Linked DNA regions of Homo sapiens: region 2 is linked to region 1. Evidence: fine-mapped expression QTL. Tissue or cell type: esophagus mucosa. Region 1 holds a variant in brackets; the other region holds the start of a gene. All regions are shown on one strand. Distances are between the middles of the regions.

Region 1 (4,239 bases):
ACCTGAAAGTGAAAACTAAGAAGGTCCAAACTGTAGGATTATAGAATGACGGATGTCTGGGGAGATCAGAACAAATCTGCGGAAGAAAACACATGTAATCTGTCTGCATTGCCAGTTTTGGGTGGTGATTCCTGTCCAAGTGTAGCTCCCAAGCACAAGACTGTGGTCTAGGGTCCTGTTCTTCCCTATCTTTAGGAGAACATTAAGATCACCATGAGGCAGGCACCACATAAGAGGGCACAGTGATAAGAATTTTAGCATTCCTCGTTGTTCCTGCTAAGTGCTTGTGAACAGTTGTATAACCAGAGTTCTCGATCGGCAGAGCCTTTTCATTTCCTCTAATATGCTTTCACACTTTCCAGTTCTGGATGCAATCAGCAAAATCCAGACTATGGGGAAAATCTACAAACAACCTGGTTTCTTCAACAAGTAAGTAGCAAGTGGTGAGGGTGGAGATAAATTAAGAGATTTAAAAGTCATCAACCAATTGCAATGTCTGAGCTTTATTTAGATTCTGATTTTTTAAAAAAAGAAACCACTTATGATAATTGAGATGAGTAGAAATTTGAACACTGACAGGATATCTGATATTAAGAAATTTTTTGAGGTATGATTTTTAAATTTCTTGTCTTAGACACTGAAACATTTACGAGTGAAATAATATGATTCCTGAGATTTGCTTCAGAATAAACGGGATGGGGAGGAGGATGGGGCAGAATTGACCAAAGGTTGATGGATATTGGGCCTGAGTGATGGAGACATAGAGTTTCCCTATACAATCCTAATTCTGTATGGGTATAAAATCCTCCATAATAAAGTTTTTAGGGCTGGGCGCAGTGGCTCACACCTGTAATCCCAGCACTTTGGGAGGCCGAGGTGGGCGGATCACTTGAGGTCAGGAATTCTAGAGCAGCCTGGCCAACATGGTGAAACCCAGTCTTTACCAAAAATACAAAAATTAGCCAGGCGTGGTGGTGGGCGCCTGTAATCCCAGCTACTTGGGAGGATAAGGCAGGAGAATCGCTTGAACCCAGGAGGCCGAGGTTGCAGTGAGCCAAGATGGCACCACTGCACTCCAGCCTGGGAGACAGAGCAAGATTCTCTCTCAGAAAAATACATAAATAAATAAAATAAAATAAACAAACAAACATAAAGTTTTTAGGCTGGGCACCGTGGCCTATGCCTCTAATGCCAGCACTTTGGGAGAGCGAGGTAGGTGGATCACTTGAGGTCAGGAGTTCAAGACCAGCCTGGCCAACATGGTGAAACCCCGTCTCTACTAAAAATACAAAAATTAGCCAGGTGTGGTAGCGGAAACCTGTAATCCCAGCTACTAGGGAAGCTGAGGCAGGAGAATTACTTGAACTCAGGAGGCAGAGGCTGCAGTGAACCAAGATCATACCACTGCACTCCAGCCTGGGCAACAGAGCGAGATTCTGTCTCAAAAAAAAAAACACAGTTTTTAAAAAGATTAAAAAAAAAGAATTTCAGTTTTAATGGACAGAAATGGTCACTAGAATAAACACCATCATTTCCCTCCCTGTGCTGCAATTTTTTAAGCCATAAATTCTGATAAATCTGTTATATTTTTAACAAAGTCTCCCATTTACACAAATCTCTGGTTAAAGAAAAAAGTCTGACTTCCACTGGTAAGAACTAGACACAGTTCCCCTGCAAGAGCCCAGGTGGCCTCTGAAAGAGTTCACAACATAAGGCTTGGCTAAAACTGCTTTCTCGGGATTAGGTAATTGAGTCTACCCGATGGTACATAGAAGCTATAATTAAACGCTTTCCATGGGTTTG[C/T]CATTCACCCCAGGCTACATGGTGGAGCTGAGGTGAGGAACTCAGACCTGAGCCAGATCCAGCAGTGTTGAGAGTTAATCCCTCATATGCAGGTGAGCTGGCTAGGGCCCAGAGCTGGGACTCCAGGCTCCTGCTGTAGTGGCTGCTGCCATGCCCTCATGTTCTCCAAAAAAGAATGATAGAAAACTCATCAGAGCAAAGGATGTTCCACACGGCACAGAAGTTTTCTGCAGCCCACCTAGAAGAATAGCTTAGGTTTCCTCTCAGAGCTAATACAAAGAGAAATGGGACCAACTTCCCGCAAGGCCGTACCTTTTGAGGGTCACTGCCTTGGTGGTGAGGAATAGCAGGGGGAAAATATGCCTAAAATACAAAGTAAATTGCCGAGACCAGCTCAGTCAAGGAGACCCTAACCCAGTGGCACTAGAGGAATTAAAGACACACACACAGAAATATAGAGGTGTGAAGTGGGAAATCAGGGGTCTCACAGCCTTCAGAGCTGAGAGCCCCGAACAGAGATTTACCCACGTATTTATTAACAGCAAGCCAGTCATTAACATTGTTTCTATAGATATTCGATTAACTAAAAGTATCCCTTATGGGAAATGGGATTAACTAAAAGTATCCCTTATGGGACACGAAGGGATGGGCTGAAATAAAGGGGTGGGTCTGGCTAGTTATCTGCAGCAGGAGCATGTCCTTAAGGCACTGATCGCTCAGGCTATTGTTTGTGGTTTAAGAACGCCTTTAAGCAGTTTTCCGCCCTGGGAGGGCCAGGTGTTCCTTGCACTCATTCCAGTAAACTCACAACCTTCCATCGTGGGCGTTATGGCCAGCATGAACATGTCACAGTGCTGCAGAGATTTTGTTTATGGCCAGTTTTGGAGCCAGTTTATGGCCAGATTTTGGGGGACCTGTTCCCAACAGTAAATAAAGGAAGAAAGCAAAGCTCTATTTCTTCCTAGATGCTTATGGTCCTGCATTATCATTACACTCAAAATTTGTGAAGTTCAGACTGGCAAATAAAAGACCATGAAAATGTGGTGTTTACAACACTCTAGATAAACAGACACACATTTTTGGCAAGTGTGTAACTGGTGCAACACCTTAGGAGGGCAACTTACCACAATCAAAATTACATGTATCCTTTGACCCAGAAGTTCCACTTCTTATTTTTTTATTTTTATTTTTGGACAGAGTCTCTCTCTGTTGCCCAGGCTGGAGTGCAGTGGTGCAATCACAGCTCACTACAGCCTTTAACTCCTGGGCTCAAGCGATCGTCCTGCCTCAGCCTCCCAAGTAGCTGAGACAATATGTTTACAGCACCTCCCCTGGCTACTTTTGTTGTTGTTATTGTGCGATAGGGTCTTGCCACATTGCCCAGGCTGGCCTTGAACTCCTGGGCTCAAGAGATCCTTCCACCTTCACTTATAGAAATACAATACATGCAAAGACACACTGTCTCCCTCTCTGCTGAATGACTCTCATTGCCTTTCTTGCCTCCGCATTCCCCTGCTCCCTTTCACAATTAAAATTGCTGTAAGGGATTGTCACTGTCATTGTGTGGACTTCCTTCCTTCTAATTCTTTCTTGAACACACTATTCTGGCTTCCTTTCCCCATCACATCACTGAGAGGGTGGTCTTGCCAAGGTCACCAACATTCTCCAAGGGCAAGCTCAGGTAGTCACTCCTCTGTTCATATCTCACTTGGCTTCTTAGTAATTTTCACCATGATTGATTACTCTGTCCTTTATGCCCTTGGCTTTCCTGACAGCATATTTGCTGGACTTTCTTCTTGCCATAGTGGCTGGTCCTTCTCAGTGTCTCTTACTGGCCCTTCCTCTGCTCAAAAGAGTCTACATGCTGAAGGCCTCTGTCCAGGGCCCTCTTTTCTTCATCTATATTCTCTCCACTAGGTGTCAGAGACATTTGAACCAGAGCAACCCTTGAATAGGAGCTGGGTAAAATAAGGCTGAACACTACTGGGCTGCATTCCCAGACAGGCACTCTAAGTCACAAGATGAGGTAGGAGGTCAGCACAAGATACAGGTCATGGCCTGGTGTGGTGGCTCACACCTGTAATCCCAGCACTCTGGGAGGCCGAGGCGGGTGGATCACCTGAGGTCAGGAGTTCGAGACCAGCCTGACCAACATGGCAAAACCCCGTCTCTACTAAAAATACAAAAAAATTGCCGGGTGTGGTGATGCATGCCTGTAATTCCAGCTACTCAGGAGGCTGAGGCAGGAGAATGGCTTGAACCAGGAGGTGGAGGTTGCAGTGAGCCGAAATCATGCCACTGCACTCCAGCCTGGGCAAAAAGAACGAAACTCCATCTCAAAAAAAAAAAAAAAAGATACAGGTCATAAAGACCTTACTGATAAAACAGTTTGCAGTGAAGAAGCCGGCTAAAACCCACCAAAACCGGATGGCCACG
Region 2 (4,239 bases), 27 kb after region 1:
TCAATTTAGTTTTAAGGTGGGAGGAAAGCTCCATCTGCCTAAATCAATTGTCAGTGTTACTTCACTAACCCTTTGGGAAAGTTACTTTGCAAGGGAATAAAAGTATGGTGGGGGGAGGATGAGGAACAAGGTGCAATATTAAGTGGCTATAGTTAACAAGTAACCTGATTTTTCCTTATTGTTAAATCAAGTTCGCCTTATAATCCAGGGATCTCCCAATCCCCCAAGAGTAGTAAACAAGAACAAGACAAATAATCGGGGCATGCTTCCTACAGGGATCTCTGAATCATAAAGATGTTGAATCAGCTATACCAACATGTATTTTTTTAAAGTTTGCACATACTAACCTTTGCTCCTGAATTTTAAGTTTCCAACTTTAAAGGACATAGAGGAGAGGTGTCCATTACAGTTTTCAATACTTCCTGGAACTAAATGCCTTTATTCTGATGCTGATTAAGAAAAAAAAATATACCAGCGGTGCACAGTTTTCAAGCTTACACCATTAACACCCTTTTCCCTAACTGCAGAGGGAAAAGAATCACATTCTTCCATCTAATTCCAACCCACTGTGACTTGCTCTTTTACTTCGTCTTTATGAAGAGGAGGATAAAAGTGAGAAATGCGCATTTCTGAGGGAAATTAAAAGCTCCCTTTGCTACCCAGGCTGCCCCAAACAGAGGGGCCTCGGTTAGGATCACAGTGGCGCGATCGCAGGTCAAACATCCCCCACGGCCACAGCGAGGCCTGCTGGGCCCGGAAGAACACACTCCCAGCAATACAAGTTCGAGCACACCCGGAGCAGCACATCCAAGGAACGCGACGGCCGGGCGCAAGTGCTGCTCTGTTCCCAGGCCAGCCAGCCTCTGGCCTGCAGACCTGGGTGGCAGCCAGTGGCCGCTCCGGGTGGCACACTAGGAAAGTCCCGGAACCCCAGGCCCAGAGGGTCAACTGGTCAAATATAAGGCAGGGTCCAAAAAGTTCCGCTCGTAAATCCTCGTGGCGCCCAACGGGCCTGAGCGCTCATTACCACCAGAACCCATCAGGGACCGGCCCTGACTTTCATACCCCGGGCCTTCCACTGTGGGTGCCAGGAGCAGCGGGACCCGGGTGGGTCTCGAACGCAGGGGCCAGAACCCGAAGAAAGGCTTCCAGCAGTTGGAGAGGGACGCAAAAAACAACCTAGAAGGCTCCCGGGCCGCGGGTTCCCACCCACTCCGCCCTGCCCTGCGCAATCAGCTCGCTAACCCCACCGGCCCCGCGGGGCCAGCGGAGGAAGTCTCCGGAGTTGGCAAAAAGCTCTTAATGACTTAGTGTTTACAAAGCAACCAAGCCCGGGGAGGGGACTAGGTCCTCTGCGTACCCTTTAGACACAGCTACTCCTTCCTTCCCTCCCTTTCCCCGAACCCACGCTGGGGCCTGGAGGTGCCCAGCATGACAGCCTCTACGGGAAGTGGGGTCTTTGGGGAAATCTCTGCCTCTGCCCGGCTCCGCTGACTTCAGCTGCTCCCGCATGTCCCACCTGGGTGCCTCCTTGGCGCAGAGACCTCACATCAAAGCCACCAAGGGGAGGCTAAGGGATTCGTAGAGATGGGTGCCGGCAGCAGAACAGCCTTCGCACACCTGCCCGGATCCCACCGTCTGCCCAGCGTGCCCAGGACCCCAGCTCCTCAGAGATAAGAGCCCTCCTTGGCCAGGTTTCTCACCTTGGATGGTGCCACTGCAGGAGAGAGAGGCTGCTAGCAGGATGGCGGCCCCCAGCAGCCACGCCGCGCTGGGGCTCCGCATCCTCCTGGAAGCCCCGACGCCGGGCGCGCGGGGAATCCGCCGCCGCCGATTCGAAACTCAGAGCTCCACTGGACGCACCGAGAGAAAGTCAGCCTCTCACCTGCCCCGAATCGGAGCCTCTGCTGCGCGCCTCCCCAGGGCGGGTTAGGTTTCAGGGAAACCGAAGGAGCAGCGTACTCACCTGCGGGAGGCCACGCCCCGGGACCGGAACGCGCGCCCTGGTCCCGCCCCCGGCCCCCTTCCCTGCGCAGCTGCGCCCTCCGCTTCCCGGACTCGCGCCAGGTCCCTTAGACTGCGGGAGCCGCCTGCGGGCGGGGTTGAGCGCATGAGGTGTCTGCTTTGGAATGCAAATAGCAGGAGCGCTGGGACCACGGGTTAATCCCTGCCTAGGCTATACCGCGAACTACCTTTAATCTTTACTTACTCCTAGAGAAGCGGGTCGTCGGTCTCCCTTGCCTTTCCTGACTGTGGGAAAGCCACGATTCGTACTCACTGCAATTGTGGTTGGTAACTGATACAGACAGGGCTTCCCGGTGCGGTGGACCCTGCAGGAGGAGGGATGCGTTTTTTATTGTAGAGGCAGGTGGGCAACTGCGGACATCACGAAAGCGGTGGGGAGCACAAGAGGCGGGGCGGGAAAGAAGACATGGAATGGCTACTTTCAGCGCCAAGTGCCAAAGCTTTAGAGAATTATCTTGCTTAATCCCCATAACAACCAGCGCAATAAGTATGATTATTCTTCCCATTTTACAGACGAGGAAAGTGAGCTTAGAAAGACCAGATAAATTGGCCAGAGTTACACGACTTATAAACACAGTGTATAAATGTTTATCACATTTCAACTCCAGTATAAGACTATCACTGTCTTCTATTCATCGCTGCACTATAAATGCGTCCACCAGGGCTCCTCTGCATTGGGATCCCATAGGCTAAATAAATACAAAAGCAGATAGAAGGGGTGGGAGAAGAGAAGTGTGGGGTTGGGGATGAGTGCATGAGGGTTGGCATCATATTGGTAATGTCTTACTTTTTGTTTTTGAGACGGAGTCTCGCTCTGTCTCCCAGGCTGGAGTGCAGTGGCGTGATCTCGGCTCACTGCAAACTTTGTCTCCTGGGTTCAAGCAATTCTCTGGCCGCAGCCTCCCGAGTAGCTGGAGTTACAGGCGTGCACCACATCTGGCTAATTTTTGTATTTTTAGTAGAGGCGGGGTTTCACCATGTTGGTCTGGCTAGTCTCGAACTCCTGACCTCGTGATCAGCCCACCTCCGCCTCCCAAAGTGCTGCGATTACAGGCGTGAGCCACCGCACCCAGCATGTCTTACTTTTTATTTGCTTTTTAAAAGATTGAATAAAACAAAGTCTACTGTTACCCATTTAAACTATTGGTACCAGAAGAGCACAGAAGAGAGACATAGGTATTTTCAAATATTTAAAGGATTCGCTTGTAGAAGAGGATTTAGATGTGTTTTGAGTTGCTCCAGAGAGCAAAAATTGGTGGAAGCCACAGTGGGGTTTAATTTCAGCTCAATGTATAAAGAAATTTTCTTTATTTTTTATTTTAATTTCTATTAGAAAATAGAAGTGGGGTCTCCCTATCTTGTCCAGTCTGGTCTGGAACTCCTGGCTTCATGTGATCCTCCCCACTCAGCCTCCCAAAGTGCTGGGATTACAGGAATGAGCCACCACACCCGGACAGGCTTCTCCCCTTGTTGACATCTGTGTGATCCCAAGTTTACTTATCCTCTCTAAGCTTTCTTATAATATATATATATATACACACACACGTGGTTTAAAGGTTTATAGGTGTCTGTCTGAGGATAAAATAGTGACTAGTGACTGGGTTTGATACATGGTAGAAGCTCAATAAATATTTTTTGTTTATTTCCTTTCTCTGAGGAGTCTTCATACTCCACCTGCACCCCAGCTCTCACCTCAGCCCATGCCCACTTTTCCTCCCAGGAAAAGCTGACTTCTAGAAGCAGAACAGGAACCTTTGACATCCTGAACAGCGGACAGCTCTCCTGATAGGGATCAGGCCATTCCTGAAGGTCCCTCCCCAGGGGAGATAACTGATTCCTAAGATGTCCCTTCAAACTTTTCAAGCATCCATTTCCTCATCTGTAGCTTATTAATATTACATCTATCATCTGGGAATGATACTAGTACCTCTCTCGTAGGGTGGTTGTGAGGATTCACTTTGCTAAATGTCCATAAAGCACTTCTTAGTACCGTTTCTGGTATATAGTAAGCACCTAAGAAATGGGAACTGCTATAGAATGACTGCCTTTAAGGTGGAATCTTCCTCTTTCAGAGAACAATACATCAGGGTCCAGCTGCTTTCGATTTAAATTTTCACTGTATTTTATGGGAATATGCCTTGAATCATCACAATTTCCAATAAAAGACTTTATTGAACAATGCTATGAGTTAATTATCTCAAAAATGTGGTTTCT

What was found. PIP is the estimated chance that this variant, and not a neighbour inherited with it, causes the effect.
Region 2: F2RL1 starts here. The variant in region 1 is fine-mapped to the expression of F2RL1 in esophagus mucosa (GTEx, PIP 0.98).

What each region holds. Positions count from the first base shown.
Region 1 is chr5:76,843,658-76,847,896 of GRCh38, reverse strand. No RefSeq gene overlaps it. Among named protein-coding and RNA genes, the nearest start is that of S100Z, 4.2 kb to the left of the region's middle. The variant C/T (reference allele first, on the strand shown) is at 1,804.
Region 2 is chr5:76,816,729-76,820,967 of GRCh38, reverse strand. F2RL1 (F2R like trypsin receptor 1) reads right to left here and starts at 1,938. Exons shown (of 2, transcript NM_005242.6): 1 at 1,704-1,938. The coding sequence starts at 1,785. RefSeq lists enhancers at 987-1,604, 1,605-2,222 and a silencer at 1,910-2,204.